Regions from separate parts of the Homo sapiens genome. Here regions 2 and 3 are each linked to region 1. The links come from fine-mapping of genetic effects on gene expression. A gene starts in region 1. Each other region holds a variant in brackets. All regions are shown on one strand. Distances are from middle to middle.

Region 1 (11,006 bases):
GGGCTGGGTGTGGTGGCTCACACCTGTAATCCCAGTACTTTGGGAGGCTGAGGCAGGTGGATCACTTGAGGCCAGGAGTTCGAGACCAGACTGGCCAACATGGTGAAATACTATCTCTACTAAAAATATAAAAATTAGCTGGGTGTTGTGGTGTGCACCTGTAGTCCCAGCTACTTGGAAGGCTGAGGCAGGAGAATGGCTTGAACCCAGGAGGTGGAGGTTGCAGTGAGCCGAGATCAGGCCACTGCATTCCAGCCTGGGCAACAGAGCGAGACTCCGTCTCAGATAAATAAAATAAAATAAAATAACATAAAATAAAATAACTAAAATAAAATAAAATAAATAAAATAACAAAGCTAGAACAAAGAACAAATAACATCACAGTGCCTGACTTCAAACCAAAGGCTATAGTAACCAAAAGAGCATGATGTGTACAAAAACAGACATATAGACCAATGGAATAGGATACAGAACCCCAAAATGAAGCCACATATCTACAATCACCTGATCTTTAAAAAGTCAATAATAACAAACAATGAGGAAAGGACTCCCTATTCAATAAATGGTGCTGGGATAACTGGCTAGTCATATGCGGAAAGTTGAAACTGGACCATTTCTTTTCGCCACATAAAAAAGTTAACTCAAGACAGATTCAAGACTTAAATGTAAGACCTAGAACAATAAAAACCCTGGAAGAAAACCTAGAAAGTACCATACTGGACATTGGTCTTGACAAAGTATTTATGACTAAGTCCCAGAAAACAATGGCAACAAAAACAAAAATTGACAAGTGGGACCTACTAAAGAGCTTTGGCATGGCAAAAGAAACTATCGACAGAGTATATAGACAATTTACAGAATGGGAGAAATTATTTACAAACTATGCATCAGACAAAGGTCTAATATCTAGAATCTGTAAGGAACTTAATTCAACAGACAAAAAAGAAACAATCCCATTAAAACATGCAAAAGGAAATCAACGGACACTTCTCAAAAGAAGATATACACGTGGCCAACAAATATATGAAAAAAATGCTTATCATCACTAATCATTAGAGAAATGCAAATCAAAACTGCAATGAGATACCATCTCACACCAGTCAGAATGGACATTACTGAAAAGTCAAAAACAACAGATGCTGTTGAGGTTGTAGAGAAAAGGTAATGCTTATACACCGCTGGTGGGAATGTAAATTAGTTCAGCCACTATGGAAAGCAGTTTGGAGATTTTTCAAAGAACTCAAAACTACCATTCAACCCAGCAATCCCACTACTGGTTAAACACCCAAAGAAAAATAAATCGTCCTACTAAAAAGATGAACATGCACTGGTATGTTCACTGCAGCACTATTCACAACAGCAAAGACATGGAATCAACCAAGACACTCATCAATGATGGACTAGATAAAGAAAATGTGGTATATATATATACCATGAAATACCATGCAGCCATAGAAAAGAACCAAATCATGTCCTTTACAGCAACATGGATGCAGCTGGAGGCCATTATCCTAAGCAGATTAATGCAGGGACAGAAAAACCAAATACTGCACATTACCACTTGTAAGTAGGAACTAAACATTTAATACACATGGATACAAAGATGGAGACAATAGACACTGGAGACTGCTTAAGCGGGGAGAGTGGGAGTGGGGTGGGTTGGAAAGCTATTTATTGGGTACTACGCTCAATACCTGGGTGACAGGATCATTCATACACCAAACCTCAGCAACATACAATTTACCCATAACAAAACTGCACATGTACCCCCAGAACCTAAAATAAAAGTAGAAGAAGAAAAGAAAAGAATTTCAGGATGGCAACCACAGAATCTTTTTTAAAAAATTATTTTAAGTTCTGGGATACATGTGCAGGATGAGCAGGTTTGTTACATAGGTAAACGTGTGCCGTGGTAGTTTGCTGAACCTACCAACTCATCACCTAGGTATTAAGCCCCACATGCATTAGCTATTTATCCTGATGCCCTCCCTCCCCCCACCCCACCCCCCGACAGTGTGTGTTGTTCCCCTCCCTGTATCCATGTGTTCTCTTTGTTCAGCTCCCGCTTATGAGTGAGAACATGTGGTGTTTGGTTTTCTGTTCCTGTGTTAGTTTGCTGAGGATAATGGCTTCCAGCTTCATCCATGTCCCTGCAAAGGACATGATCTCATTCCTTTTTGTGGCTGCATAGTATGGTGTATATGTACCACATTTTCTTTATCTAGTCTATCATTGATGGGCATTAACCACAGAACATTTAAATCCCAAGTGTTAGGCCCATAAGAGTGTAGGGCTCTGTGTGAATACACTGTTTGAATGCCCATCAAGCTGACCCTGCCTGGATTAGATAGTAAAGTTATAGGACTGAATGAGTTCTATAGGGAAAGATGAGAAGAAAAGAGACCCAAGACCTGAAGCTAGAAAAGCAACAACTTTTACAGGATGGGCAGAGAAAGAATATCCTGGTGGCCAAAAGTTGTATTTAATCAGATGAATGAATGAGAAAATAATTGTTCTGCGATCCCTGACTTGAAAAAGCTTTGCAAATACAAATAACCTGGCTGTATATTAATATTTTATTTCACAAATTATTATTGTATGGATGATAATTCTTCAGGGTTAAATGTGTGGTTCTTACATAGGCCTATTATCCTATTTCTGAGGCATATATTGATTGCTCAACTGAAAAAAAATGCAGAAGAGAAGTGGTAGGAAATAAAATGGATTAGAGGAAAGAATGGAATTTACTAATAATAGAGTTCCCTTCTAGCAACAGTTACCTTTACATATAAGGCCAACAATGTTTCGCTGCAACATTTATCAAAGAAGAAAAATGTAAACTCTTAAAAATCTGTGAAGAATTCTAAATGACTAATTAAAACTTGTTGCAAAGTCAACTTCGATAATTTTTTAACTACAAAGTAACTTTGACCGAAGTCTTAGTCCATAAAAATGAGAACAAGGCCGGGCGCGGTGGCTCACGCCTGTAATCCCAGCACTTTGGGAGGCAGAGGCGGGCGGATCACGAGGTCGGGAGATCTAGACCATCCTGGCTAACACGGTGAAACCCCGTCCCTACTAAAAATACAAAAAATTAGCTGGGCGTGGTGGTGGGCGCCTGTAGTCCCAGCTACTCCGGAGGCTGAGGCAGGAGAATGGCGTGACCCTGGGAGGTGGAGCTTGCAGTGAGCCGAGATCTAGCCACTGCACTACAGCCTGGGTGACAGAGCGCGACTCTGTCTTAAAAAAAAAAAGAGAGAACATTTGGTTAAAGAACTATGGCAGGGAGTTGATGAGACTTTGAATTTTGAATTGGTGGGGGAAAAAGTGATCTGAAAAAAAAATGGATTGGGACATGTCTCTGGAGGTGGTTTATGAAGAGGCTATGAGCACTGATTCTGAAACAAGCTGTTGAGGTTTCAATCCTGGCTCCACTATTTATTCCCTGTGTGATTTTGGACAAGTTGCTCAAGTTGCCTCACACCTGAAGAAAAATGATAACACTTTCTAGGGTTGTTATGAGGGTTGAATGACTGGATGCTTATAAAACATGTAAAACTTTTCCTAGCACATAAAAAGTACTACACAAAAATTTGTTAAAAGAAAATTGTAAAAATTGATCATGTAACCAAAACACTTTTGAAGTTTCTACTTTTAGTGAGTTTCACAAGCTCAGGGGAGAGTGTTCAGTGAAAGGAAACAATCTCTTCTCATCTTTCTTCTCCCATCATTTTTTTCTCCTATCTTCAGAGTACTGTATTGTTGTCTCTTTATACTAAAAACAATTCTGTTTATTCAAAAAAAGTACCTCAAGAAGCAAGTATAGTGTTTCCCAGGTATTTTCTTAAAAGTAATTTCATCATGTCTTTTCATGTATATATTCATGTCTATTTTCCCACTTAAGATTGGTCCCAATGTTTTCTTTCTTTCAGAGAGAACATTAAAAATGTTAGGAAACTGAGGTGCAAGGATTGCTGGAGGCCAGGAGTTCGAAACCAGCCTGGGCAACATAGTGAGACACCCATCTCTACAAAAAAATTTAAGAATAAGCCCCACATGGTGGTGTGCTCCGCTTGTAGTTCTAGTTACTGAACTCCCACCTCGGCAACAGAGCGAGACCGTCTTAAAAAAAGTATGTGGAAGAAAAAACATGCACAGTAGATTTAGTGTTATTGTGATAACCCTAGCACTTCAGTGGAAAAAATATAAACAATTTCAATGAGTAGACAATAACACATATAACCAAGATTTCAAATATACCTTCTAGCCCTTTTGAGAAGTCAAAATTGAACAACCTGAATGTACCAGCTTTTTTGAAAAAAGTTTTGTAGACACGCGATCCCCAAAACCTGCCGTTCAAACAACTCCAAGGGTCTTTAAAGTACTAAATCCCTTTGTATTTGTCCTATCGGTCCCTTTGGTTTCCAGGAAAGCATTAAAAATAAAAATAAAAACTCTCTGCCTTAATTTTATTTCACGACTTTCTTTTCTCTTATTATAGCTTTCCACATTGCTTTAGAAGAGTTTACATCTAACTCTAGTGGTCTTCGGCTTCTTCTCCCTCTTTGACACAGAGGACTAGTTTCAATTGTACAAATAGGCTGGACGCTTCAGCGATTATCTTCCGACCACTCCCTGTGTGCTCGCGCGGGCGGAGTAGGGGGCGCTTCTCCACTCTCCGCGACCTCAATGTATGCGGAAATCCTCCTGCCTTTGTGCACACGTTTATTTAGAAAATTCTCTCCACCCCCACTCCCGTCCGTCCCGCCCCTTCTTCTTTTGCTTATTCTCTGAGTTTTGCCTCTCCTCCCACCCCGACTCCACCGTAATCTTAACCTACCCGTACAGATTCCACTTTCCCACTTCGGAGCTAGAGTAATTTAAGATCCCCCCATTATTAGCTCCACGTCGCCTTTAAAAGCCATTCAAACGAGTTCGCCTTCCAGGGTTCTGCAGTTGTGCTGCAGCAGCATTTCCCTCCTCTCCAGTATCAGACGTTAAAACAAAGCAAGCCACAGTGTGTGTCCACAGACGACCTTGGAACGAAAAGCTGCCCTGTTTGGGATCAATGCTCAGGGAACCCAGTCCACTCCCGCACTCACGTGTTCCCGCCTTGCCCTCCAGCTAGTTCCCCCGCGCGCAGGATCGCACTACTCCCTCTGCAGTCTCGCCTGCCGACTTCCTTCTGCGCGCCTCGTAAAACCGGGGAAGTTCAATCATTCCGCAGCGAGCCGCGGCGGCCGCACTGGGCATGCTCAGTCTCCGGGCTCCGCTCGGCAGGCGAGAGGCGTCCTCCGGCTCTGGGCTCCGGTCGGTGGGTGCCTCGGCTCGGCTTTCCCCGGCGCTGGCTGGGCTCAGCGGCCCCTGAGCCCAAGCGACACACGCCCCGCGGTCCCCGATCCGGCCCCTGGGAGAGCCGCGCCGTTCTGGAACCCGGGAGCCCCCAACTTCGCGCCAAGTTCGGAGCCGCCTTCTGAGGGAGACATGAAAAAGATGAGCAGGAATGTTTTGCTACAAATGGAGGAGGAGGAGGACGACGACGATGGGGATATCGGTGAGCGAGGGGTCCCCGCGTCCCCACCCGAGAGCCCGAGCCGACGCGGGAAGAAGTTCGGGGACTGCGCGGGGGCGCTGTGCTCTCCGCGGGGGAGGTTGGCCGAGACGCTCGGCCGCTCCGGGCAGGGGAGGAAGCCCGCTGTCCCCGGCTGCTTGCAGACTGAGGCCCCGGTGCGGCCCCTGCGGGGCTGAGGCGCGGGGCGCGTGGTGGCCCCGAGGACAGGCTCCTGACGGGCGGGGGATGCTGCCCCTGAAAAGCCTGGCAGCTGCGGGGACGCCTCTGCGTGCGGAAGTCTCCACTCAGAAGCAACTTTGGGGTCACTTCCCCGACTCGCAGAGTGCTAGGGTTGCCCAGGAGCCTCGGCACTGGGGCGAGCCCCCTGGGCGGGGTCCGGGGAGCAGGCCCGCATTTGGAGGACAGGGTGTGACCCATCTGAATCCTCGTTAAAGTAAAAGCCGACCGACGGCTCTGGGAGGTTTGAGGCCTGGCGGGGCGGCCCCGGGAAGTGATTTGTGGCCGCTAGGCGCGCGCTGGAAACCCTTTCCCATCTGCGGAGCCCACCGGAGCTGTGATCGGAGGAGGAATTCCCCCAGGCAGGGAGGACCGCAGGGCCTTTTTCACTCGTCCTGAGGGGCCCTGGGGCTTGGGGAGCAAACCTGGGGTGACCCATTTCTAGTTAGAGTTAAAAATGCATGGAAGTGACAAGACGAACGGAGGGAGAGCTGTTTTAAGAGCAAAAAAAGAAAAAAAGGGCAAACAAAAGGGATGAGAGGAGGTGAGGAAGGGGAAAGGAATGAGAGGACTAGAGAGAAAATCAGGTCCCTAAAGAGAACACTGTCGGGGGATGATGATATAATGTGTCCCTCCAGAAGACTCTAATTAAATTACCAAGCCAGTCTGTTGTGGCGACTCGGCTTAGTCTCCTGGATGCCAAATCAATTTTAAAGCAGAACATCCTGCTGATGTTCTAAAGCCCTGTTGTTATCTAATAACTTTAAAAGTAACTTAATTTTAGGAGTTGGGTGTGGTTTTTATTTCTGTTACATTTTGGGCACGGAATATTTCGATCAAAAAAATTTGGTAACTTCTTGGTTGTCCAGGGACAAATCGAATAGAGGAGATTACACTCCATGATTTAGTTTCACATTTCATTCATTCATTTAAGAACAATTTACTAGTTATTCATCTTTAAGGAGAGAGCAAATAGTAGTAGTTTTTATAGGAGAGAAAACTGAAGCGCACAGGTTGGTCTGCCCAGCTTCTCACACTTTCAAACCCAGGTTTTCTGACTTGTAAAACCAGTGAAGATTAATGCTCTTACCACTGGGTCACTCTGGCTGTTACTACTGTTTAGCAAGATTAAGTAGTACCTGATGATTACATAAAAATATAGGAGTGAAATTTAAAAAGTTACAATAAAATTGACACAGTCTGTTTCCCAGGAAAGTATTATTGTCTTTTATGGTGAGCTGCACTGTTTATAATGAGTATTGTAAGTAAATAAGGGCAGAAGCTCAAATGGAAACTGAAGTAAGCAAGAGGCTCTGAGCTTTGTTTTACTGTGCCAGCAGTAGATCTCAGTTTAGAAAGTAATTTGGTCTAGTCTGTGTTTACCTATTGAGGCATCGTATAAATTCATCTTAAGCGTGTGGCAGTAAGCTCTTTTTATTTTTAATGACATGTCATTCATGCTAGTTTTGTCCAGTCAAACAGTGTAGATAGACTTAAGAAAAAGTTAAATATCTCTACTCCTCCCCACCCTCTAGAAACTACTAATACTAATACTTTAGTGTTAATATTAGTAGGGCATTTCCCACTATTCCTGTGGGGCCCTGGGGTCTCTACTGTAGGGGTCATCTCAACATATTTTACGTCAAGCAGCAGGTACCATTTAAACAGGTCTTGGCAATATTTTTTTCTTCTCAGTGAATGAAAAGATATGCTGATGTTCTAACACCCAGTATCTATGAATGTGATTTCTGTTTCTTTCTTTCTCTTTTTTTTTTTTTTTTTTTTTTGAGATAGGGTCTCGCTCTGTCGTTTAGGCTAGAGTGCAGTGATGTGGTCATGGCTTATTACAGCCTCGACCTACGGGGCTCAAGCGATCCTCCCACTTAAGCCTCCCAAGTAGCTGGGACTTTAGGCACCACCATATCCACCTAGTTGGTTGTTTTTTTGGAAGTACAAATTTAATGTGGGTTGTAGTGATTTTATATCAGAAAATACTTAACTATGCCAATGTTAAGTTTATGCCTTTACAAAAGAATAAGCCTTTTTAAAGATTACCAGGAGTAGGCTGATAGTGGTCCAAAGCCTTTTACAAAATAATTATTATTTCCAACTGTGGGAGAGGAGACTGGTGAAATGAAGATAATTTTAACCTCTGCCTTTAATTTTGCAATGCACGTCTGTATTTACGCTATTAACTAATATTTCTCCTAGTACTTGATTGTCACTGTCAGTAGTTGTATAATAGTTTGAAACCCACTTGGGTACGGAAGATTTCTGTGAAATCCCTCTATTAATATTACCTTTATAATTCAGACTGGGAGAATTATTTTTAGAGACAGGGTCTTGCTCTGTCACCTAGGCTAGAGTGTAGTGGCAAGATCATAGTTCGCTGCAGTCTTGAACTCCTGGCCTCTAGCCATTCTGCTGCCTTTGCTTCCCAAAGCTCTGGGATTACAGGCATGAGCCACTGTACCCAGCCTTAGAATTATTTTGACACGAGTTCCTGGGTATACCATTGGGCGTTATAATGGCCTAATTTGCAAGAGACCTCCCCCTCCCCCCAAAAAAAAACTTTCTAACTGGATGGGGTCCCTGATTATATCATAGAGATGCTTTATGTATGTATATGGAAATGTGCCCTCTAGTAGCTGGAATTTAGAGCCTTTTAAACAGTGGGTTCCTGCTTACTTTTGAAACACTGTATTTTTATTGTACTTTTATTTATTCATTTAGAGACAGGGTCTCCCTCTGTCAGGCTGGAGTGCAGTGACGCAGTCACAGCTCACTGCAGCCTTGACTTCCCAGGCTCAAGCAATTCTCCAACCTTAGCCTCTTGAGTAGCTGGGACCACAGGCCTTGTGACACCATGCCTGGCCAATTTTTTTTTTTTTTTTTTTTTTGGTAGAGACAAGGTCTCACTGTTGCCCAGACTGGTTTCAAACTCCTGAGCTTAAGTGATTATCCTACCTCGGCTTCCCAAAGTGCTGGGATTACAGGTGTGAGCCACCATGCCTGGCTGTTCAGTACTTTATGTCAGTGTTGCCTCCTAGTTTAGAATGAACTGATCTGGAGAATCAAGGATAGTACATCTCACTATGGATGTCTTTTCCTTGTTTGTTTAAGTTACAGCCAGCAGAAATTATTTCCAAAGGCGTGCTTGTGTGGCAACCTGTTGGCATTAGAGCATTTTTGCAATAGGCCACTTATTTCTAAAGCAGAGCCAACAACCAACCACTGAAGCCACATCCAGGCAGTAGTAGTGGGAAATGTGTGGTTTGAAGCCCCTGTTGTGCTGGTGGAGATCACATATTGTTGCAAGCCCCTGGGAGTTAGGTTGTGTGCTACCCTGCCAAGTGTGCAAAAGAGTGTCCTTGGCTGCTTTTCGCCCCCTCATCAGCGGATTAAATTCAGCATCTCTTCTTGTTCATGTAGAATGCTATAGGAACAGCTTTTGTAGCCAGAATGCAGAAATCAGATTAGTATGCTGCTTTATTTTGTTTCTTCAATTCTGTTCTCTGTGGTCAAGCTTTGCTGAAGGAGGAAAAGTGGTTCCAAAAAAGACTATCAGGAACTATTCAGACTGTTCAGATAATGAGGTTTTGTTTGTGGATGGTTGGTTGGTTGCTTTGAGTTCCTAGTCTGTTTATGGTAGTTTACTGTCTGATCCCCATCACTAATGGTCATGTATGTCATTGAGGGGTAGACAGAGGACATGGTCCATTACCTTTGAGAGATAATGATCCAGCTATTGGCTCCCTTTTCAACTGTCACATTTTTACATAGACTTATCTTCCCACACCCACCTCTCTTTCCTTATTACCTACTTCAGGTTTAATCACCTATAAATCTGATACTAGCCCCAGTCTTCCTTCATAAACATTGATTGAGCAATCCTTCTGTGCTAGTTTCAGGATTAGGTGCTGGGTCAGGTGTTGGGAGACTGAAAATGAGTAAGACATACCTGTGTCTTCCAGGAGAAAAGTTCCTTAGAACCAGACTGTGATATTGTGAAATATATAAGGCATTCTTCCAGTTTCTTGGCATGCAACTCCTAAAACTTTTGGAATTTTCAAAGTGGTAAGTGTCTTTTTGTATGCTAATAAGTTGACAGATGGCTGGCAGCCCCTAGGTAGCTTCCTGATGGGGGCTGGTCACTGGAAAGACCAAGGCAGGATTAAAGGTTTGGACTTCCAGCCCCATCTACCAACCTGAAGAGGGGTAAGAGCCAGGCTGAAGGTTAAGCTGATCACCAGTGGCTAATGATTTAATCAATCATGCCTATGTAATAAAGCCTCCATAAGAACCCAAAAATTCTGTGCGCTGCCCTGGCAAATTAATGGAACCCAAAGAGGGTGTTGCAAGAACCTCAATTTGTAGCCGGTGGGTCAGAAACCCAGGCAAAACAACCTGGGGCCTGTGATTGGTGTCGGAAGTGGGGGGGGGCAGCCTTGTAGGACTGAGCCCTCAATCTGAGCTCTGAGGCTTACTGCAGGTGGATAGTATCCGAATTGAGTTGATTTAGAGGACGCCCAGCTGGCGTTCATTGCTGAACAACTACTTGCTTGTCATGTGGGAAGAACTCTTCCCACATCTGGTGATAAACGTATTCTGTGTTGATTGTATTGAGAGTACAGAAGGAGAACCTGAGTTTGGTTTTCTCTGCATCATCAGACAGAGATTTGCAATAAAAGGTACATATAAAACTGAAGGGAGAGACTGGGAGAGAGCTTCACAGAAGAGATTTTTGGGTCAGATGCTGAAAGACTAGGAAAATGTAGTGCAGAGATGGCCGGAGGAGAGTCTGGAGTTCCAAATAGTTGCCTGCTAGGGAAGGCAGGGAGAGGCTATGCCGTGAAGGATCCTCCATACACTTTAAGGATTTTGGGTTTTACTCTGTATGTGATTTGGAGCTCCTGAAGGATGTTAATGAAAAGAGTGATAGGATTGGATTTGCTTTTGGAAAGATCTCCATGGTAGCACGTTCTAAAATGGGTTGGGAAAGGAGACAGTAGAGCTAAGCCTTTCCAGTAGTTGGGGTCAGAAATGCCTGCAGTGGTCATGGAATAGAGAAGAATGGGTCTGACAGCTTTATGAAAGAGGCGCCATCTGTGGGTTCTCAGCTGCTGATTGTTTCCGGCAAGCAGAGAGGAGCCCAGGATGATGGTGGCAGGAGGAGAGAATTTTCTGTTCCAACTAGTCTTTTAATTTTCCCCTCTGA
Region 2 (11,006 bases), 200 kb after region 1:
CAGACAGCTTTGCTGCTCTTTTCTTCTAGGTGTTAGCAGCACCTGCTGCCTGCCGTGGTGGTATACGCTCTGTGCCTGCCTCTCTCCCCATTGCACCGAGCCCGATGGAGGCAGCTACTGCGTCCTCTGCTAGAGCGCCAGTGCCTGGAACCTTATACTCATAAACATTTAAGCAACTTGAACTTGGAGCTCCAACACACATATAAAACTGTTAGTTGATTTCACATTAACATCCTTCACCCACTTCTCACCAAGTTCTGTATGACCTGTTTGAGTGAAACGTTTTTTATTTAGTGAATTTCCCACCATCCTTTGAGATTATTGGAGTAACTCTGAGCTGTTAACCCAAATTGCTTCTCTAAGAGTGTTCCTGACTCCAAGTACACAGACACAGAACATAATAAACGTAGTTGTCTGTATTCAAACCTGGAAGCCATAAATACTGTTTTGTACTCAGTAATGTACTGCAGACACAGGTGTCCTGAGAACTTGATGAGGCCTTCCTGGTGGGCAAGTGCCATAAACAGAGTGCACTGAAGTGATGAGTGGGCCCTGTTTGTCTCTGGCACTGCCTCTTCCACCCTTGCCGTGGTACCTTGATCTCACTTTCATCTGTCTCCAAGTTAATTTTTTAAAATCTGCTAAAACAATGACCTTCATATATGATTTTCTCCATGTAATGAAGATCAGCTATTCTTCAGCAGCTCCTCGTACCCCTTTCTTTTTCTTCCTCCTATGCTGAACCCACCGATGCCTCTGCTGCACTCTCCAGGACTCAGGCCTTCTTCCCTTCATGCTCTCATCTCTGCTTGGTTCGAGCCCATCACCTGCCATGAAGTCTCCTAACCTTTGCAGGATGAGCTTTCCAAAAGGGCAACTAGGTAATTGGGAGGATTTGCAGTCCTCCAGCTCTTCATTTGTTCATTCATTCATTCACTCATTCATCCATTAAACATTTATTAAGCACTTGCTGTGCCAAACACTCTCAGTTGCTGGGGATACCAGGGCACTTGGTCCCTCCCCTCACGGAGCTCAGCGCTTGGTGCATGGTTAAGGAGAATGCTAATCAGACTTCCTTGAGCAGGTGATATTTGAACTGGATTTTGAAGGGTGAATGGAAGTTAGTTATCTAAAGTATGGTGAAGAGAATGGACATTTTGTGTGGAGAGGTGGACATATTTAAAAGTACAATAGCTTGATCAAAGAATGGCAAGTGAACAAAGGACTCACAGGTGGGAATATCAGGTAGGCAGGGGCCATATCATGATGGGTCTGGTGTGCTTAGCCTGAGGACTTGAACTTTATTCTTAAAGAAATTAGGATCCACTGGAATATTTGTAAACAAGATAACTGCATAACATTTATGTGGAATAAGATCAATCACGCAGCAGAATGGAAGATAATATTTTGGATGAGATTCGTGGTGGGAGGGAGATGATTTAGGAGGCTACAGCAGGTAACCCAGACAACAAGTGATAGGTGCCTAAATAGTGGGCATAGGAGTAGAGAGAGGGAGATGGATTTGGTAAGTGTTAAAGCGGTGAATTGCATAGCAGATGAGGAATAAAATTAAGATAACTTCCAGGAGACCATATATGCAGGGCAGAACATAAGGAGAGGAGCTGTTCTCTAGGAAATGCCTAAGTGTTGGATATTTTTAGCATGAAAACATCTGAAAGGCAATGTCCATTAGAAAGTTGGACACAACAGTCAGGAGCTCAGAGGAGCCATGGGTGAGGCCACGAGGGTGAATCAGGCATGCCTAGCAGGAATATCAAGAGAGATGGACAGAGAATTGATGATGAGGCCCGGGGGTAAAGGGACATTTGAAGAGTGAAGAGTGAGGGAGGCTCACAAAGAAAAAGAAGAGCAGAGCAGTGGGAAGAAGTCTAGCAGAGTTGTGTCAACACAGAGAAGGCTTGGGAGATGATAACGTTGCTTCAGAGGAATTTGGACATGATGGAAAAGGGGCATAATGGGAAATACAGAGGGGGAAGAAAGGAAGAGCCAGCACCTACACAAGTCCTAATTGCTAGACCTGGGTTGGGAAGTGGAAGCAGTGCTATAGCTAGGTAGGGCTTTTTTAGTTTTTTTGTTTTTCAATATATATTTTGACTTTTTAAAACTAAGTAAAAAAGAAATCAAGGGGAAACAAATATTCCACAGCAGGGGGACTGTTTGACCATGTCACATAAATCTTGGCCGTACATTTCTTATGGCCATGTTACAAGAAATCACAAAAATCAGGACTGAAAAGGAACATCAGCTTATGAACATGCAGCCACTGGCAAAGTTAGCAAGAGTAGGTCCAGTGCAGTGGTGAGGGTCTCAGCAGGATGCGGGGCTTCAGGGAGTAGTTACTCTACCACTTGTTGTGAAGGTGGACACTTCCTTCAGAAAACTCAACTGTAACATGTAGAAGCAAGCAGAGAAAGCATTAGAGAGCAGTATAGGATTATGAAAAAGTTGCAGGCAAGGGTTGTTTTTTTTTCAGTGGGTGTTTTGCGTTGACTTTTTGTTGTTGTTATTCTTGGTTTCAAAAGTTGCTTATAAAATTTTTCTCACTTGAATATCAGAACAAATTATATGGGCTTTTTCTGGTGTTTTATTTTTAATATAATATTTTTAATCCATCTGGAATTTATTTTGGTGTCAGAAGTGATGGCCCCATACCAATTTTTCCCATGACTTAGCTAGCTGTGTCAATACTTGCATCCACTGCTTCAAAGTATCACTTTATAATATATAAAAACCCATGAATATTTGCATCTCCTCTTAAAATTCACCCTGGTTAATTCATACTATCTATTCATATACTAGTTCTAAACTGTTTCAATTACCATAGCATTATAATACACTCAATATCTCCCAGAGCTATCCCATTTTATTTTTTCACAATGTTCCCAATACTGTCTATGCAAACATCCCTGTTCATTATTTTACCTGTTTATATTTCTTGAAGAACTTTAGTATCACTTTTCAGCTTTTCTTTTCTTTCTTTGAAAGACAGGGTCTCGCCCTGTTGCCCAGGCTGGAGTGCAGTGGCACAATCCCGGCTCACTGCAACCTCCGCCTCCTCATCTAAAGCAATCCTCCCACCTCATCCTCCTGGGTAGCTGAGACTACAGGCTCGTACCACCATGCCCAGCTAATTTTTGTATTTTTTGTAGAGACAGGGTATGTTGCCTAGGCTGGTCTCAAACTCCTGGGCTCAAATAATCCTCCCGCCTCAGCCTCCCAAAGTGCTGGGATTACAGAGATTAGCTGCCATGCCTGGCTGACCTGTCAGCTTTTTTTTCTTAAATCCATTTGGGATTACTAACAGAATTTACATTAGAATTCTAAATTATTTTGTGGAAAAAAAATTTGATATGTCCCTGAATTCAAGTTTGCCCAATCAAGAGTTTGGCACATCCTACCACTCATTCATTCATCATTATTTGTTTTTTCTTAAGTCAATTATCATAGTGGTCTTAGTTTTCTCATTAATTTATTTCTAAATAGTTTATGCTTTTGTTGTCATTATAAATGGTATCTTTTCTCTTTTGGATTTTTAACAAGGTTTACTGATAACATAATCCTAATCTCTGGCTTCTCTTGAACAATCAGGAGATCTGGCAACATGGAGCCCTCATTCCAACATGGCAACTATGAGCTGTCCCTTTCCATAGGACACACGCTTGCTAGTTTACCACAGTTGACGGGCTGACTCCACACATGGCTATTACTTGCATGCCCTGCGGGCTGATGAGTTATTTAGGGTTGGGTGAGTCATAGGGAAGTTGACATCACTGCTTATTGCTGCTGCTCATGACTCTGTAGCATCACCAACTCTGGTCCTTGCCTGGCTGACTTCTCTGCATGAGTGTTCCTGCCTGGCCTGTGGGACTTACTGGATCCTTCTAGCCCTGTCTGCTCTTCTGCAACATGCCCTTTGGCTCTCTGACCAGAAGCAAATGCCAGCTCTGCTTGCCTCGCCACACCCTCCACAGCCTTGCCCTTCCTGACAGAGTCATCCCTGCCCCTTGTCTGAGCATGAGGCCTAATGGAACTCTATGTTTTCCTCCCATCCACAGTTTTAGTTACATATCTGTAGATGTTTCCTCTGAAGGTCTGCCAGTTAGGAGGGCAGGGTCTAAAACTTGAGGATATTTTCTTACTTCTTCCTCTCCGTGGTATCACTTACCCCAAAATCTCTGCTGCCCCATTTTTAATAAGGCCGTGTCAATTACAAACAAGGAGAAAAGAACTTCTAAGCCACCACTCAAATTTTGACTTATTATGACCACAAGGACTGCAACTAACTTCAAGATTCTTAAGGAAGGATATTATAATTTATTAAGACACTTTTATCACATATATTTCTGTGATTTCTATTACTGTCAAATTCTCTGAATGCACTGCATTTGCATTTGCAGACTCAGGGGAGCTCACTCATTTGCTTGTTCTCAGCATATTTCTTCTAACGTTCTCTAAGTATAGCCTTCCCATGGGTCCATTTCTTTTTGTCTTTAACTTGTTAGATAATGCCACAATATTTCTTTTTTCTTAAAAAAAAAATCCTAAACCACAAATCTTCTTTCAACATTCTATTTCAACACTGAGAATGAATAATATGCTTATGATGTCTCAAGTTTATTACCAGCGAATAATTCTGGTTGACTAAAGATGTCTAAATATATTGTTCCTATTAAGTGTATACATGTGAAAGAAACAGGCTATAATTAATCTTCTTTCCAGAGATTTTATATTTGTGTTTTGTTTGAATTCTTTCACTGTTGAACACTAAATTATTATTTACCACAGATGTGTTTTCTCTCTGGGATTTAGTTCGTTTGCCTTTCTCTTTCAAGAGTAAAGGAAAATATGTTGTCCTTCCATCCACCACCACTCCATGATGTGTGTCCATTCCATTGACAGTTATTCAGTTTGGGTTCGTCACCTTATTTGTGGCCTCTTTTCCACTGGCCCCTCTGTTGGCTCTCGTGAACAATATATTGGAAATAAGAGTGGACGCATGGAAACTGACCACCCAGTTTAGACGCCTGGTACCAGAGAAAGCCCAAGACATTGGAGCATGGCAGCCCATCATGCAAGGAATAGCAATTCTGGCTGTGGTGACCAATGTGAGTAGACCTAAGCTTTACAGAGTAAAGACCTTGAAGATGCATTAGATTTGCTACCTAAGGAATCAAATGTTTAGTGTTTTTTAAAATGAGAGGAAGATGCTAAGTCTGTCATCCACATAAATGATATAGTTGCTATATATAACCACTTGTTAAATGTATTTTCATTTTGTATATAATTATTTTTAACTGTCAAGACCTCCTATACAGGTACTGTTATTGCTCATTTGCTAAAGTTTTTATTCAGTATGAAATATGGTAATGATAAGAAGTACTAACACTTTTAATCCTCACATAACTATAAAAGGAGTTATCAGAAAATGTTTTTTTTATAATGTGGGTAGAAATCTGTTCATTTAGAGTTTGAGGGCCCTAAAATAAGATCATTCTACCATATTTTACTACTACATATTCCAAAGCATCACCCTAAAATATTGACTCTGATGGTGAAGTATAAACACTTTGTGCACTCCTAATTACCTTCCTTGACTCCAGAGCAGCAGCTCTTAAAGGAGGAAGGTGGGTGGGTTTCATCACCCTTCCCACCCCACCCTTAGGTCTTTGCTCACCATGCTTTGGTCATTGGCTGAAGCAGCCTCATGCCCTGTATGTATCCCAGCTGTGAGGGGACAGAACTCAGTTGTTTACAGCCTGTATTCATTGATTATGGGCCATCTGAACAGTGTCATTTTTATGTACAGGCACACAGGAAGTTCTCAGGCAATGCAATTTTCATGCCAGCCCATTAGAGGACCACCTTCCCAAGAAGTATCCCAAAACTAGGGCCATTTCCTCCCATATTTCACTGACAGTCTCACTCCCAGGTGAACCTCCCTAACAAAGTGATTCCCCAGTTTTGTTTTCTTAAGCCACATCTTCCCTGAGTCCCCAGCCAAAACAACAGAAGTTGGCAGTGCCTGTAGTTTAGGCTCTGGATGAGGGAAGTTACTGAGCACTGTAGGCTCTAGAGTCAGGTAGACCCGA[A/G]CTCCACTTCCCAGCACTGTAGCTCTGAGCTGCATGATCTTGAGCCAGGCCTTACCACTCCAGAGCCCTATTTTATTATTTGTAAAATTATTAATTCCCTACCACATATCATAAGAATAGTACATACCAACCACAGTGTTAGGGAATTCATTGAGTTAATGCATGAAGCCTCGTTTCTATTGAATGTTAGCTGCTGTTATTTTATCATCTTCATTACTCATCATTGTTATTAACAGTAACGCTGTGAGGACTCTGACAGGTACCCCAATTGGAGGCACAGGAATTCCAAAAGCAACCACTGTCTGGACAATGGTTACAGTTTTATACAATAAAACAAGTTATCTGGAACCTAGCTGTCATCCCTACCCCAGAACCGTACATTTATCTGAATTGCATGCTATCTGTACTATTTGGAGAAAGTTGCAAATCGCACACAAAAACCAACTACTGGGGTATGTCAGTTTCCTTTCACCCAGGTACCCCACACCTTCAACATCTACTGTGCTGCAAAATGAAGACTGCTGTTTAGAAAAATGGCAGTGAGGCCTTTCAAGTTCCTCAGTCATAAAACAATGAACATGACAGCACGTTCAATATGCTCTAGTACACTAAGCTGGACAAGAACATGGACTTGTGTGCTTTAAGAAAATTTTCAGCAACAAAGTTTGAAACTAAAAGGGTTTTTATTTTACCTTCAACTAACCAGAAAATTCAGTTGACTCAAACTCTCCCTATTCCTCAAGCATTCTAGATTGATTGTATTAGGTACCTTTTCCCAGCATCCATGCCATGGCTCTACTCCATGAGCACAGATGGAGGATTGGCTGTTTCCAAGGCGACTCAGTGTGTGTATGTGTACAGACATTCACTCTGGCTAATTGGTGCTATTGGTTCTTATCCAATAATGGCTTTTTCTTATCACTTAACCTAGGAAAACTGCTTATTAGATTTGTGACATTGATTAAACTATGGGCAATCCCTTTTTCCATATTAGGATTTGTTATACTTCCAAGATGGCAGTTATACATCCACATACATAGACATCTATGTTTATATGTGTGCTTGTGCAAGCATTAAATGTGTGTCTTATTCCCTCAAACACCCAGTGTGTATCTCACAACCTACTGTCTACAAAAAGAGAATAACCACCAGGATGAGAGTGGGCATCAAGCAGGAATTTGGTATAAAATCATTCATTTTAAAGCTGCTGGTTCAATAAATAAGCTGAATTGACATTGTTGTATCATGCCAGAGCATCTGTTATTGAAGACCAATTTTAATTTATTTTTATATAAATGGAAAACTGTGTGCAGAACAGCATGGGAAATGAAACACACTGCATTTATTTGTGCTCTTGCAGCATGTCTCTCAGAGCAGCTCAATTCAGGAAGAAAAGTATCTTGTCAGAAGACAATAGAATTATCTTCCTTGTTGGAATTTTTTGTAGCTTCTGATGCACATCTGCCAGTGATTCTATAAAAAGATATAGTTGAGTTAAATGATAATAGCAAAATTTAATCTATTGAAATCTGAGGGAAAAAAGGTAAAATATTCGTGTGGCTCCCCAGTACTGACAGGCAGAAACACACTCATATGTATATGTACATTTTTCACATCAGAGGAAATGACAAAGCTGGTTCTAGTGAGGGAAATTTTGTAATAGAAAAGCCCCCTAATTGTTTTTTCTTGCTTTGCCTGAGATTTGGTTTGTGGTCTCACTATGCCTAAACCATATGTTCAGATGAATACTATTAAAAATCATGTTAAGCCAAAAACATGTCTACTTTTCTGCTTCATCAATGACAATCATTTAGCTGTTTTATTCACATAGAATTTGGTTTAAAGTAAAAATCCTTTCTCCTTCCTTCCAACCAGTTTTACACACTGGAGAGTTTAAAGCCCAAATTAAAGAATTTTAGAGAAAATTCATATAATTCAGAATAGCTTTACCTCCTAATAGATGTCTCTCTGATACACAGGTTTATGATTGGCCCATATTTACTCCTTTTATCTAGGAACATACTAAATTTTCTGTATGTTGTTGTTCAACTTATAATTTTCATAACTTCATCCACTTAATCTTTTTGAAGTTTAGAGACTTAGATACTAGATCAGACTAAACAGACATTATTGTTTGACTATGAATGGGACAACCCCAATATAATTCTACTACCCAAATTTTGTTAAAATTAATAAATGCTCACACTCTATAATGAAGCAACAAACATAACCATGTACTGAGAGTTTAAAACAAATCAGGTCATGGTTTGACTTGTGTAAACAAGTCATAATACTATACAGGAAAAAAGTGAACTTAGAGGTCATTATTTAAATTTAGATCAAGGAAAACATGCAGTTTACCTTCTGTGTTTATGAAAAGAGCTAAATCAATTATATAAAGCTCAATTATTTTCATAATGTTGACTCTGATTACATGTGCAAGTCTTCTAGGCTGAGATCAGTGGCTCGTACCTATAATCCCAGCACTTGGAGAGGCTGAGAGGATTGCTTGAGGCCAGGAGTTCCAGACTAGGCTAGACAACATAGTAAGACCCTATCTCTACAAAAAATGTTTAAAGATTAGCCAGGCATGGTGGAGTGTACCTGTAATTCTAGCTACTCAGGAGGATCACTTGAACCAAGGAGTTCGAGGTTACAGTGAGCTGTGATCATGCCAGTGCACTCCAGCCTGGGCAACAGAGCAAGATCTTATCTCACTATCTGCATATATTTTGCAGTTAAGAAAAAATTAAGATTTCTGAATCTTTAAAAAAAATTGACACGATGAAAATAGTAATTCTGGCATATTTGTTAACCTGACCTATACAAACTATAACTTCGGCCAGGTGCAGTGGCTCACGCCTGTAATCCCAGCACTTTGGGAGGCTGAGGTGGGCAGATCACCTGAGACCAGGAGTTCGAGACCAGGAGTTCAAGACCAGCCTGGCCAACATGACAAAACCCTGTCTCTACTAAAAGTACAAAAATTAGCCAGGCGTGGTGGCACGTGCCTGTAATCCCAGCTACTCAGGAGGCTGAGGCAGGAGAATTTTTTGAACCCAAGAGGTGGAGGTTGCAGTGAGCCGAGATCGTGCCATGCAGCCTGGGCAGCAAGAGCGAGACTCCGTCTCAAAAACAAAAAACTATAACTTCATTTTCGCTTTGTTTTTCTCCCAAAATAGGCCATGATCATAGCTTTCACGTCGGACATGATCCCCCGCCTAGTGTACTACTGGTCCTTCTCCGTCCCTCCCTACGGGGACCACACTTCCTACACCATGGAAGGGTACATCAACAACACTCTCTCCATCTTCAAAGTCGCAGACTTCAAAAACAAAAGCAAGGGAAACCCGTACTCTGACCTGGGTAACCATACCACATGCAGGCAAGTTCTGCTTTACTTGTTTAAAAATGCACTTCATCTTTAAAAGGGTTTTTCTTGTGACTTAATTCTGTTTGGTGTCATTTTTAAAATTTTTATTTCTTTATAACTTCAGGATCAATCAGGTGCTTTGGTGTCATTTAAATCAAGCTGCTAGAGACATTTTTTCCCCATAGCTTTCTCTTGAGTGAAACTCAGAAAATGTATATATATGTATATTTATTAAAAAGTTAATGAAGACTAGGGGTAAAACTTTCAGACCAGGGGTAAAACTTTCAGACCAAACCATAAAGATTTAAAGTTGAGAGTTTCAAACGATTACAGGGAGATTGATTCCAAAGAAAAGTCATAGAAATAGAGAAACTTCAAGAGGTCCAAGAACCAAGATAATTCAGTTGTTAATACTATTGTGTTATTCAAGCACAATCTGAAGATATTGAATGATGGCAAACTAGCACCTCACATAACAGGGACATACAAAGATAAGAGATGTGAAATCTCAGCTGAACAGTATTATCTAAAAATATTCCAAAGTTCTCTGCATCGATTTTAATGGCTGGTGAGTTCAACAGTGGACAGTATGTACCAGGTAAATTACCAATTGATAAAGTTTGTGAACTGTAGGTCATCAACCTTTTTTCCTGGACCATAGAGTTTTACCTAAAATAGGAGGCTTTAAAGTTTATTTAGTCCAACTCCTCAAAGCCTTCACTAACTCAGATTCTCAATGATGCAACCAGGAAACCAGAAATAAGCCCAAAATAAATGTTTGTGTTACACCTAGTGGAGCCTCTTTACAATTCTGCATCAAATCTGCTTATTCTTACTTTCCACAATTCTAATCAGAAATTAAACTCTTCTAGGTTTAATAGCTTACAGGCATAAAATTAGAGATGTCCTACCTGAGGAAGATACACTAACAGCAGTTAACACTTGATATCTGACAACAAAGAATTAGGTAAAAAATTATAACAAGCAGATAGCACTCTGTATGAGGAGAGAGAGTCCCATAGCTGAGTGAACCCTGATGATACCATTATATAAATAAATTTATAAATATGATCCCCAAAACAGGAATTGTTTTGAGAAAACAGGGATAAATGTTGGGAGAACAAATTTAAAACTTTAGTTCTTTTATAAAGATGGATTCTTTTCTACAAAGATGGACCATGTTATTACCATCATTCTCTGATTAAATATTAAATGAGGCACTACTGTAGTTATTTTGGGGCTTTGTTACCAAATTGAGCTTTAAGAGAAAATGTATGTGATGTCCAGTTTAAAAGAGCATTGAATCAAATATGACTTTTTTTTTTTTTTTTGAGACAGCGTCCTGCTCTGTTGCCCAGACAGGAGTGCAGTGACACCATATCAGCTCCCTGCAACCTTCACCTCTCGGGTTCAAGCAATTCTCATGCCTCAGCCACCAAATAGCTGCGATTACAAGCACGTGCTACCACACCTGGCTAATTTTTGTATTTTTAGTAGAGACGGGGTTTTACCATAGTGGCCAG
Region 3 (11,006 bases), 64 kb after region 1:
ACACCTCGTATTCTCAAATTCAAGCACCCAACATCCCCTGCGCCCACACCTAAATCGGAGCCCAGGCCACTACTAAGTTTTGCAAGGACTCCTGTAGTCGCTTCCTGCCACCATTCATGCACCTCTTGGTCTGAGTTCATAGAACAGTCACAGTGATCCTTCTCTTTTACACCTTTATACTGTCTGTAGTGGCTTCTCTACAAACAGTATAAAATTCAAACTCTTGGCCATGTACTGTAAGGCCTCTGCTACCTCTCCATCCTCTTCTCTTCCTGCTCTGCGTGTCTCTTAACTGTGCTCTAGCCACACCTGTCCCTTGACATGTCACTCCTTGCCTGGCCACTATCCTCATCATCCTCTCCACCCTCTGTCACCTCCCAACTCCTTTCTCATCTAGGATGCTTGCTGCTGCACTTCCTTCAGTTCTCACTTGAATGTCACCTACTCAGAGCTGTCACCCCTGACTTATCTATCTAAAATGTCACTGTTACTCTGTATCCTCTTAACCTGCTTTGTCTTCAAAACATTTATCTCCAACTGAAATTAGTATATGTACATTTGTTTGTTGTCTCTATCCCAGTAGATTGTAAGCTCTGTAAGGACATTGATCCTGGTGCTCGATAAGTTGTATGACTGAAGGAGTTAGTAAATTAATGCTCTGGAATCCCTGTGTTAAAAATACTAAAGAATCAAACACCTTTCTCTAGACCCTTAGATCCGTCTCCATCTCTTACCCTGTTTCTCTGTCTCCTTTTATTTATTTTTTTATGTTTATTTTTTGAGATGGAATCTTGCTCTGTCGCCCAGGCTGGAGTGCAGTAGCGCCATCTCGGCTCACTGCAACCTCTGACTCCTGGGTTCAAGCAGTTCCCTGCCTCAGCCTCCCAAGTAGCTGGGATTACAGGCACCCGCCCCCACACCTGGCTAATTTTTGTATTTTTAGTAGAGATGGGGTTTCACCACATTGGCCAGGCTGGTCTCGAACTCCTGACCTCATGATCCACACGCCTCGACCTCCCAAAGTGCTGGGATTACAGGCATGAGCCACCATGCCCGGCCTGTCTGTCTCCTTTTAAAGCAAAACTTCTAAAATGTTGCCTACATGTACTACAGCTTCTTCATTACTCATTTATTTTTCAATCTGTTACGTATGGTGTCTTTTCCCATCACTCTTCTGAAATTGATTGTGGCAGAGTCATTCAAGATCTGTGTGTTGCTGCTTCCAATGGATACGTTTCTATCTTACTGGATCTCTGAGTGGCTTTAAGCAGTTTTCTATTGCCTTCTTGAAATTACCTTCTAACTTGGCCTTCCCCCTTCCCTACTGGCCATTTCTTGATCCTCTACTGGCATTTCCTTCATTACTTGGCCTCCTGGGAATGTTGAGAATTCTTCATGCTATGGTTTAAGCCATACCTCTTCTGTCTACATGCTCATCTATTTCAGGGGCTTTAAATACCATTAATTTGCTGACTCTCCAAGGTGTATATCTCCAACACTGAGCTCTTCTGAGTTCTAGACGCCGTACCCTCCTCCCTCCTTGACAGCACTCCTGGATGGATGTCTCATGTTCAGGGAGGAACTCTTGATTTGCTTCCATGTCCCATCTACCCCATCCTGCCTCTGCGCTCTGTGTCTTCACCATCTCAGTAAATGGTACCACCATCCTTCCAATTTACAAAGTCAGAAACCTGTATATCATCCTTGGTTTCTCTTCTATTGTCCTTCCTCTCCCCCCAGTACTTCTACCTTCAAAATGATTTTGAGTATCTTCTCTGTCTCCACTACTATCATCTTAGGCCAGCTTCGTCACCTGGACTTCAACATTAGTCTAATGACTGGGTCTGTCGTTTCCACTCCTGCCACAGAAGTATGCTCTGTGATGGTGTGGTGCCATCCCATTGTTTACCTGTCAGTGTTTACCTCACTTGTTCCCCAGCCTCTCATGTCTTCACTGCCCTGCAGTCACACCGATCTTTGATCATATCTTTGAGCACACCAAGATACTTTCTGCTTCAGAACTATGGTCTTGTTTTTTCTTTTTCCTTGCATGCTCTTTTTTTTAGCCCTGCATAGCCAACTCCTCATACTTCATGTCTCAAATATCACCCCTCAGGGAGGCTCCTGTGACCCACCCTACCCGAAATACTTCCATCTCTTAATCTCTGCTATATCAACTTGTTTATTTCCTTCATATCTCCAAGCAGAGTCAGTTATTTTAAAAGTACTTATATTTAGTTTTTATTGTGGAATATAAGCTTCCTAAAAAGGGACATTTTCTGTTTTATCTTCTGCATCTAGCACGTGCCTGGCATATAGTAGGTGCCAGAACAGTGATTCTTACGTTTATATGTGTTCATGCCATGAGCTCCCCGCCTTTTTTAATTGGGGGAGAAATGAAAAGTTTTTATTTTAGTCAAAGTTTTACATAATTAGTTAGAATGTTTACATAACTCAAAAATTAAATAATGTTGCAGGTTTTGTTATGAAAACCAGCTGCATCACCTTTTCTGTTCGCTGTTCCCCAGAGGCCAGGATTTTTAACTGTAGCTGATTCTTTTAGTAATTACCTCTATATCTCTGGTTAACATAATTAAATTATAATTTATCTATTTTTCAGTTTTAGGCATTATCTATTGATGCAGAAGTATTTAGCTCTTTTTCACCTACTCCAGCCCCCTTCCCTTCTCTCACAAACTTTCCCAACCCCATTCCCTCAATTGTAATTGTGTTATAATTTTGGTAAGATCAGTATGCAGTGTTTACTTTATTATAACTATGTAATACTTTCCACAGATGAGCTATATAATATAGTTTGATTACTTTTCCTCTGGAGACTGTACAGCAGATACTGATATTATTAGTTTTTCATATAGTTATGAATAATTCAACCTCACACTTTTACCCAATTGTAAATCTCCTCTCAGTGTAATCAGCCATGCATGGAATCCTGTCAAATTCATCCTTTGGGGGAGATTCCTCCCACAGCCTTCTGATCTCCTCCACGCTGCCCAGGTTGGTCTTTAGACCTCAGCCGAGTGAGGGATTCCTTTTCACCACCATCCTGAGAACTTGTATTGGAGCCCTACATTTATGTCTTATTTTTTGTTGGTTTACTATTTTATTTTGATGGAGCATATTTCTCAGTGTCTTATGTAGAAAGGGTTAAAGGCAGGTAATTTTTTTTTAAACTTGCGGGTCTGACAATGCTTGTATTTTTCTCTGGCTTTCAGTTGACAGCTTGACTAAGTATATAATTCAAAGGTGGAAATTATCTGCTCTCAGAATTTTGAAGCCTTCTACTTTCAGGAGTTGCTCTTGAAAAGTTCCTGCCATTCTGACTTATGATCCTTTGTATGAAAAACTTTTCCGCTCTGGAATTTTGTGGATTTTTTTCTTTGAACGCAGTACTTAGAAATTCCATAATGATTAGTATGGTGGAAACTCAGGAGACCCTTTCACTATGGCAAGCCCCACCCAATTCATTTTTTTAAGTTAAAAAAATTATTATATGTATTTTTTAGAGATAGGGTCTTGCTCTGTTGCCCAGGCTGGAGTAGGTGGCACAATCATAGCTCATTCCACCCTCAAACTCCTAGCTCAAGCTATCCTCCCCGCTCAAACCACCCTCCACCTCGTAGCTAAGACTATATGCATGCACCACACCTGGCTAATTTTTAAATTTTTTTGTAGAGACAGGGTCTCTCTGTGTTGCCCAGGCTGGTCTGGAACTCTAGGCCTTAAGTGATCCTCCCCACCTTAGCCCCCAGAGTGCTGGGATTACAGGTGTGAGCCACCGTGCCCAACCCCCAACTCCATTTTTTAAAGGAAAAAAGTGTCCTTCAGTTTGTTTTCAGTCGTGGGAGAAAGGTGTTCTTTAATTCCTAATCCTTTTCAATTTGGGGAAATTTCTTTGACAGTTACTTGCCTTCCATTTTGTCTAATCCATGAATACGTCTGTTATTTGGATATTGGCTATCCTGAATTGGTTCTCCAATTTTCCATGTTTCCTATTTTTCACCTCTTTTTGCTTAACTTTATTGAACATTTCCTGAATTTTATCTTTCAAGCCTTCTGTATCATTTTAATTTCCAAAAGCTCTTTTTTTTATTCTTTGACTATTTCTCTCTTTCTCCCTCTCTCCCTTTGGTAACATCTTGTCCTTATTTCATGGATGCACTTTTCTCAATCTCTGATGATGCAAGAGTTTTTTGTTGTTTGTTTTAAGCGTCTTTTTCATGTGATTTCTCCCTCTTCACCAAGTTGCTTTGCTGTTTCTCTGTTAGATGCCCTCTCAGTGTCTGGGAAGTCTTGTCCCTTCTAATTTTTGAGTAGCTGTCTAGAAAGATGGCTGGAAGTTCTGTAGTAGTGGATGGCATTTGGCAATTATGCACTTCACTTTAGGGTGACCTGTTTGGCTGTTTGTTTAGGAAACTCTGTTAGTAATTTTAGGCCGTCCCTCCACCCACCCCTCCAAGTTAATCAGACCAAGAGAAAATACAGCTAGTCAGAAAGCTAAGTAGAAGTCTAGGAGTCTCAACATTCAGCAGTAATCTTTTGTGTAATCTGTCTTTTCAGTATGGGATCCCCATCCTCAACTGTGCCTAGTATCCTCTTGTCTGAAGAGCCTCTGTTCACTCTTTCCAGAGAATACCTTTCAAGTCTTTTCCTAGGTAGGGTGGGGTTGGGAGGCAACCACTTGTCTTTAAGCCTTGAGGAAGGGAATCTGGAGGTCCAACTCCTCAATAAACAGACTTACGACCATTCTCCTGCCCTACCTTCAGTCCCACTTCCAGAGGAGCCTGTGCTGCCAGCCTCTTGAGGGCTTATAATTTAAATGAAATTGCTTCGAGGCTTTCCTATTTTAGTATTTAGCTTTCTCCAATTGGCTAAGTAGTTGCACTTGCCTAACACAATGTCTCCCCAAATTGTGTTACTGTCTCTCCTCCTCTATTTTCTTTGTCTTTATTGGTTTATGTTCTGGTAGTACTTGAGGAGGGGGCAGAGCTAAATGCATATATTCAGTCTTCCATCTTTAAATAAAGTTTCACCGACATGAGTTTTTAATTGTTTACAAGGCATTTGATCACACTTCTGAAACAAATTTCTGTGTGACCTCTGAGTCCCCATTTCACCGTAATTCTTTTGTTACATTATGGGGCGAGTACGTGGAAAGCCCCTGGGTCAGTGTTTAGGACACTTGGGTTCCATTCCCACATTTGCTACAAACTCTTTAATCCTGGGCATCCTGCCTTGTCATTATTTCTGTTCCATAAGACTAAGGAATTAAAAATGATTTTAAGATCTCTTTTTACGCATAGATTTATTTCCAAGAAGTTGAGATAATTGTATGTAACTGAACACCGGAATAGGAAACAGAGTTGTGGCAGCCAGTTGAAGAAATGTGAAGTTAAGTTTCTCCTTGTATTTTTTAGTCAGTCTCAGTAATTCTGACATTTTCAAAGTCAGGTAAAATTGCAACCCACATTTCATGAACAAGAGCTGTTAAAAGGTTAAAAATTGTGGATTTTTTTTCCTCTGGGCTATTTTCAGCTGATAACAGTTCAGCTCCAAAGCACACTTGGATTCATGTTCTCAATAGCCAGATAAAATGTTAGTTTTGAACAGAAGAACAGGAAAGATAATAGAGGTCTATTTTTTCCCCTTTTGCCCTCTGGCAAGGATGGCCATCCTGGGAGCACCCATCAGGAAATGTGTCCTTCCCATCAAAGCCATGTTTGAAAAGATAATACGCCCATCTCTGTATATTTTTTTTCTCTTTTCTAAGTTGCTGCTTCTCAGCTGGATGGAAAGACAAAGTGGACATGGCATGTCACCGTGACTTTGAGTGACGAGTTTGATCAGTAACCC[A/G]GTGTGCTCAGCTGTGGTCAGTACAATGACTGAGGAGAAAATGTGGTTGTGAGATCAGTGACCCTGTGGCCTACAGACCAAAGGGCAGTGCTTCACAAATTGCCATGTACATGGGACCCAACCCCTCACCAATTACTAGCACAGAATCTCCATCAGGCAAGGTGTAGGAATCATTTTGCATAGTTCTCCTGGTTATTGTTACACATTTGATTCTTGCACTGATTCTGGGAAAACATTGCCTTGGGACAGGAAGCCAAAAAGAAAATTGGAGTCTTGAATATTTACAGAGCTCAGAAGAAAAACCCAGCAGAATGGAAACTGATCCTGGCACACCGAGTCAGCAGATGCTCTCCTATCAATCACAGAAACTGTTTCAAACTCTCACTGTCTTCCTCTATTCCACACCCTCTTGGCCTCTCAGTAGATCATTTTCTTAAATCAGAAAGGAAAGGAAACCTGCAGGGGCTACTGCCTCAACTTCTTTTATCTCCCTTCCTCCAAAAATGCATATACATTGTGTGCATGTAAATTGTATCATATATGTGTTTTTATATATATATAGAGAGAGAGAGAGAGAATATATGTATATTTTATATATAATGCATATATAAATGCATGTTTACATTCATCTTTGCTTCTCCCATCTGTCATCTTTCTGATAAATGTTAATGCCTTCACCTATGCCTCTCTCCATCAGTGATCCTCCTGTGTTTTTCTTTCACTGTTTTCCATCAACGTGTGTATGTGTATATGTGTGTGTGTGAATAGGTAATATGAATACAAGTTTCATCTTATAAAACAAGGCACAAAAAATGAACAAAAATATATCTTCCTCAACCCTACCTTATTTATTCATTTAGTAAATATGTATTAGGGTCAACTGTGTACAAAGATTCTGGCTAACTACTGAGGTTCTACAGCAAACTAAATAGGTACAGCTTCTGTCCTCATGATGCTTGTAGTCTCTTTTTAACCAGCCTTCTTTAAAAATCATTGGTCTTATTTTTTCCCATGTTATTCCATTCTTGTGTTGCTGTAAAGGAATACCTGTGACTGGGTAATTTATAAAGAAAATAAGTTTATTTTGGCTCACAGTTCTGCAGGCTATACAGGAAGTGCACTGTTGGCATCTGCTTCTAGGAGGGCCTCAGGGAGCTTACAATCATGGCGGAAGGCGAAGGGGAGGCAGCATGTCCCATAGCGAGAGCAGGAGCAAGAGAGAGAGGAGAATACCATACTCTTTTAAAACAGCCAGATCTCATGTGAACTGAGCAAGAACTCATAAGCATGGGGATGGTGCTCAGCCATTCATGAGACATCTACCCCCATGGTCCATTACCTCCCACTAGATGCTGCATCCAACATTCGGGATTACATTTCAACAGGAGATTTGAAGGAGACAAACAGCCAAACCATATCATTCCCCATTACAGAAATAACATCTGTTTGTTATCTTAAATTTGAAAGTGGTTTCCTAATGGGAAGCTATTAAAGTATTTAAAGCAGAAAAGTACTGGGTCAGAATTTTATTTTCAAAGATTGCTTTGGCTACTGAAAAGATAAGTGATTAAAAGGGGATGAAAGTTGCTGGCAGGTGGGCGGGCGGTCAGGAGGTTGGTGCAATAGTCCCAATAACAGATGCAAGGGGCTTGGCAGGATGAGATGAAGAGAGGAAGACAGTCAAGAACTCTTCAGCACCATAGGAGAGTGAATGTTTGGCTGTGGGGGATGCGGAAGGGAGGCTAGTCAAGGATGACAACCAGGTTTCTGGCTTGACCAGCCAAATAAGGGGGGTTACCATTTATGCAGACAAGAAATATTGAAGAACAGCTTTGAGTGTGTTTGTGGTTGAGAGGGAAGCATAAGTCCTGTGTGTTAATACTGAGTCTGAGATGCCTGGGACATTTCCAAGTCAAGATGTTGCATAGGCAGTTGGATATGTGAATCTGTGGCTCAGAAGAGATGGCTGAAATAGAGCAATGCATTTGGAACCTTTAGTCTACCTGTGTTAACAGTTGCCAGCAGACAAAGAGGAGCAGGGCTTGGATGGAGCCCTGAATATTTTCAGAAGTCAAGGCGCAGTCAAGGAGGAGGCACCAATGGAGGAAATCAGAGAAATGGAAGACCCTCTAAGAGAATGAAACCAAGAGGAGAGAGTCTTCAAAAGAAGTCGTGGCCAGCCGTGTCAAAGCTCATTGAGATGTCAAGTAAGGCAAAAATGTAAAATGGGCATTAGGTTTAGCAGCATGCAAGTCACTATGGACCTTAGAGCCGGCTGGTGACTGATGGGGGCTGAGTCCATGGTAGAGGAGTGCCAGCGTACTTTGACCTTATCAGTAGTAGTAAGGACTATGTTATAATGCAATAGGTGCAGTGGAAAGGCTGATTAAAGTTGTTTTAACTTTTTTGATAACCTTTTATCTTTATTGTTTTATTCTGATTACAAAGCAATATATTTTACAATGAGTCATTGTAAAAGTTCTAAACATTAGAAAGTATAACTGAGAATCATCTCCATAATTGCATTCTCTCATATATAGCCACTGTTAATAGTTTGAGGTGTATCCTTCAAGACTTTTCTGTACATGTGCTATTGCTCGCTCTCTCATACACACTTACATTACAAAAATTGGCTTTATTGCTATGTCGTTGGCCAGAGTTTGTGTTTTTGTTCTGTATATTATAGACATGTTACTCCCTAAAGTAGAAGCATACTATTCTATTGTGCTGTAGTGTTGTCTGGATATTTTAGTTTTACTTAGAAATTTTGGTGTCTCTCATAATGTTACACTCAACATCTTAACGTACTTATGCATATTTATATTTTTCCAAATGTGTACAGGAATTAAGTAGAATTTGTGAGGTCGAAGTATATGCACATTTAACATTTGATAGTGATACATTTCCTAAGGAGAGGCTTTTTACTTTTTTAAGATGGAATAAATCTGAGCATGAAAAATGTTGACAAAGGTGAAAATGAAGCGTAGGTTGAAGTCACAGTAAAAAGTGCTGAAGTCACAAGAAGTCCTGTGGGAATGGGAGTCATGGCATAGGAGGAGGCTTTGGGCTATGATCAGAAGGGATATGCCACCTCTCCCATGAGGAGGAGTGGGTAGATGGGACAGGATGGGGAAAGGCAAAGTCCTCAGTTACTGCTGTATTTCCAGAGCTTGCCCAGTGCTTACGTTTAGCAAGAGTGCCACAAACATTTATTGGTTGAAGGAATAAATATAATTTGGTTGATTCAGTTATATAATTTAATGTTTCCATGTAATAGCATCTATTTTTTCTACTCTGTCTACATAATGGGAGCTAAGATTTCCTGCTGAAACTGGTGAAGGAAGAGTTAGATTTAAAAGGCCCTTCTTACTTAGTGAACCCAGTAGGTAAAGTCAGACAGGACTCGTAGTCTAAGCATTTCTCATCTTCCTTTCCTATGAGCCTGCAGGGCCTGTTGATTCTAATACCTTAATGTCACCGGAATCCATGTATTTCTGTTTATCCCCACTACCACCATCACTGTTATTCCAGCCTGGGTTTTCCTATCACAACAACCTCTTAGATTGTCTCTCACTTCCTCTTATGCATCCATAAGGACATGGTTTAGGGGTGTCAAGGCCAAAGGAAAACTTCCCCTTTGCTTTCTGAAGGTTTGCTGAAAATCACTGACAAGAGGCAGATTAATAGGATAAAAGGCATACAAATTTATTTGATCATAGTTTTAGATGATATGGAAACCTTCAGAATGAAGACCCAAAGATACAGGGGAAATTGTCCATTTTTATGCTTAGATTCAAGAAAGTATAGACAGCCATGTAGAAACACAATTGGAAAAAAGGGTCTGATCTAATGCGAATAGACAGAATGGGGAAACCCAGCAAGGCCTGTGTGTCCAGACGCTTCTTGACCTCTCTAAGCAGCATTCCTTCTTTCTGGGTAAGACTCTCTGGAATGTGGATTTTAACCTACAGTCAAACAGTGTAGATCAGATAAGTACTTTATGGCCAGAATCTTATGGCCAGAATTTCTTTATCTCCACCTTTCTGTATAATTTTGTAAAAAATCCCTCAAAAGGAATTCTGGCTTCTAAACTCATCTTCTAGTTTCTGTGGCCAGCCTCAGGGGAGAAGGGGATTGAGAGATACGCGGGCAGGAGAAGGTCAGAGAAAAACTTTTGCTTCTAAGGCTGCTGCTAAGGCCTTTATTTTAAAAGGGGTGTTGTTTGCTGATGCCCACCAGGGGCTACCTCGTCCAACTCCCAGCCAGGCTGCTTTAGGAGTCTCTTCTTGGGCTCCCCCAGCCATTTGCAGGCATCTGTTCTCCCCAGATGGTCACTGGTATGTTTTATTTACCTAAAGCCTTCACACGTAAAATACCTTAGTGACTGTTGTCGTGTATCTAAGACCTACTGTAATGCTTAGCTCATCCTGCATGCCAAGTAAATGATAGTTATTATGTGTGAAAGTCTGATGCCTGTATAAATTTGGCGCATAAAAGGAAAGGACAAGGACAAAAGCAGGCCTCAGATGAAACCACAAAGGACCAGTAATTTAAGACATTTAATCCTGGAACAAGCCTCAGGATTATTACTCCCTAGGGAGGGGCAATCTGAGTTATATGTCATTTCTGTTATTTCTGTAATTAACATGTTAAGTGCATATTTAAGAAATTTTAAGTAGCTTGAATCTCTAAGATGATTTAGCTGTAGTCAGATAATCTGTTTATTTTGTAAGATCTCAACTAAAGAACTAAATTGTGATATTTTCTGGAGTAAAAATACTTAAATTTCCTTAGCTATGCCTGGCCACCTGGAGAATATAATCACATGATTGAAGTCCAGGTTGGGATTCTAGAAGAAATGGCCTTCACAGACCTATTAAATAAAGAGCTTCCCAATTTGAAGGCAGTGTTCCTGCCTGCCATCCATCACCATGCCCCACCCCATCTACTGAGGAGAGTAGTAGGAAGTAGTTACCAACTAGCACCTGAATATAATTTTAAGTTACAGAATCAACTATCAAAGTATAATGAAAGAAGAGACACGAGGAGTTGATTATTTGTGGAGAAAACAGCATAGATTCAAGCCCCTTATAAAAGTTACATATTCAGAGTTGAGAAATGCTGCAGTAAAAAGG

The links. PIP is the estimated chance that this variant, and not a neighbour inherited with it, causes the effect.
Region 2: its variant is fine-mapped to the expression of ANO6 in whole blood (INTERVAL, PIP 0.97).
Region 3: its variant is fine-mapped to the expression of ANO6 in whole blood (INTERVAL, PIP above 0.99).

Annotation. Positions count from the first base shown.
Region 1 is chr12:45,210,838-45,221,843 of GRCh38, forward strand. ANO6 (anoctamin 6) reads left to right here and starts at 5,258. Exons shown (of 20, transcript NM_001025356.3): 1 at 5,258-5,554. The coding sequence starts at 5,485. It also overlaps the pseudogene PLEKHA8P1. RefSeq lists enhancers at 5,024-5,123, 6,134-6,263 and a silencer at 5,584-5,893.
Region 2 is chr12:45,411,779-45,422,784 of GRCh38, forward strand. ANO6 (anoctamin 6) reads left to right here. Exons shown (of 20, transcript NM_001025356.3): 17 at 4,921-5,126; 18 at 9,293-9,495. All of the region lies in intron 5 of LOC105369743 (a long non-coding RNA gene), which reads right to left. Among named protein-coding and RNA genes, the nearest start is that of ANO6, 200 kb to the left of the region's middle. The variant A/G (reference allele first, on the strand shown) is at 6,111.
Region 3 is chr12:45,274,449-45,285,454 of GRCh38, forward strand. The region is part of intron 1 of ANO6 (anoctamin 6); the gene reads left to right. Among named protein-coding and RNA genes, the nearest start is that of ANO6, 64 kb to the left of the region's middle. The variant A/G (reference allele first, on the strand shown) is at 5,872.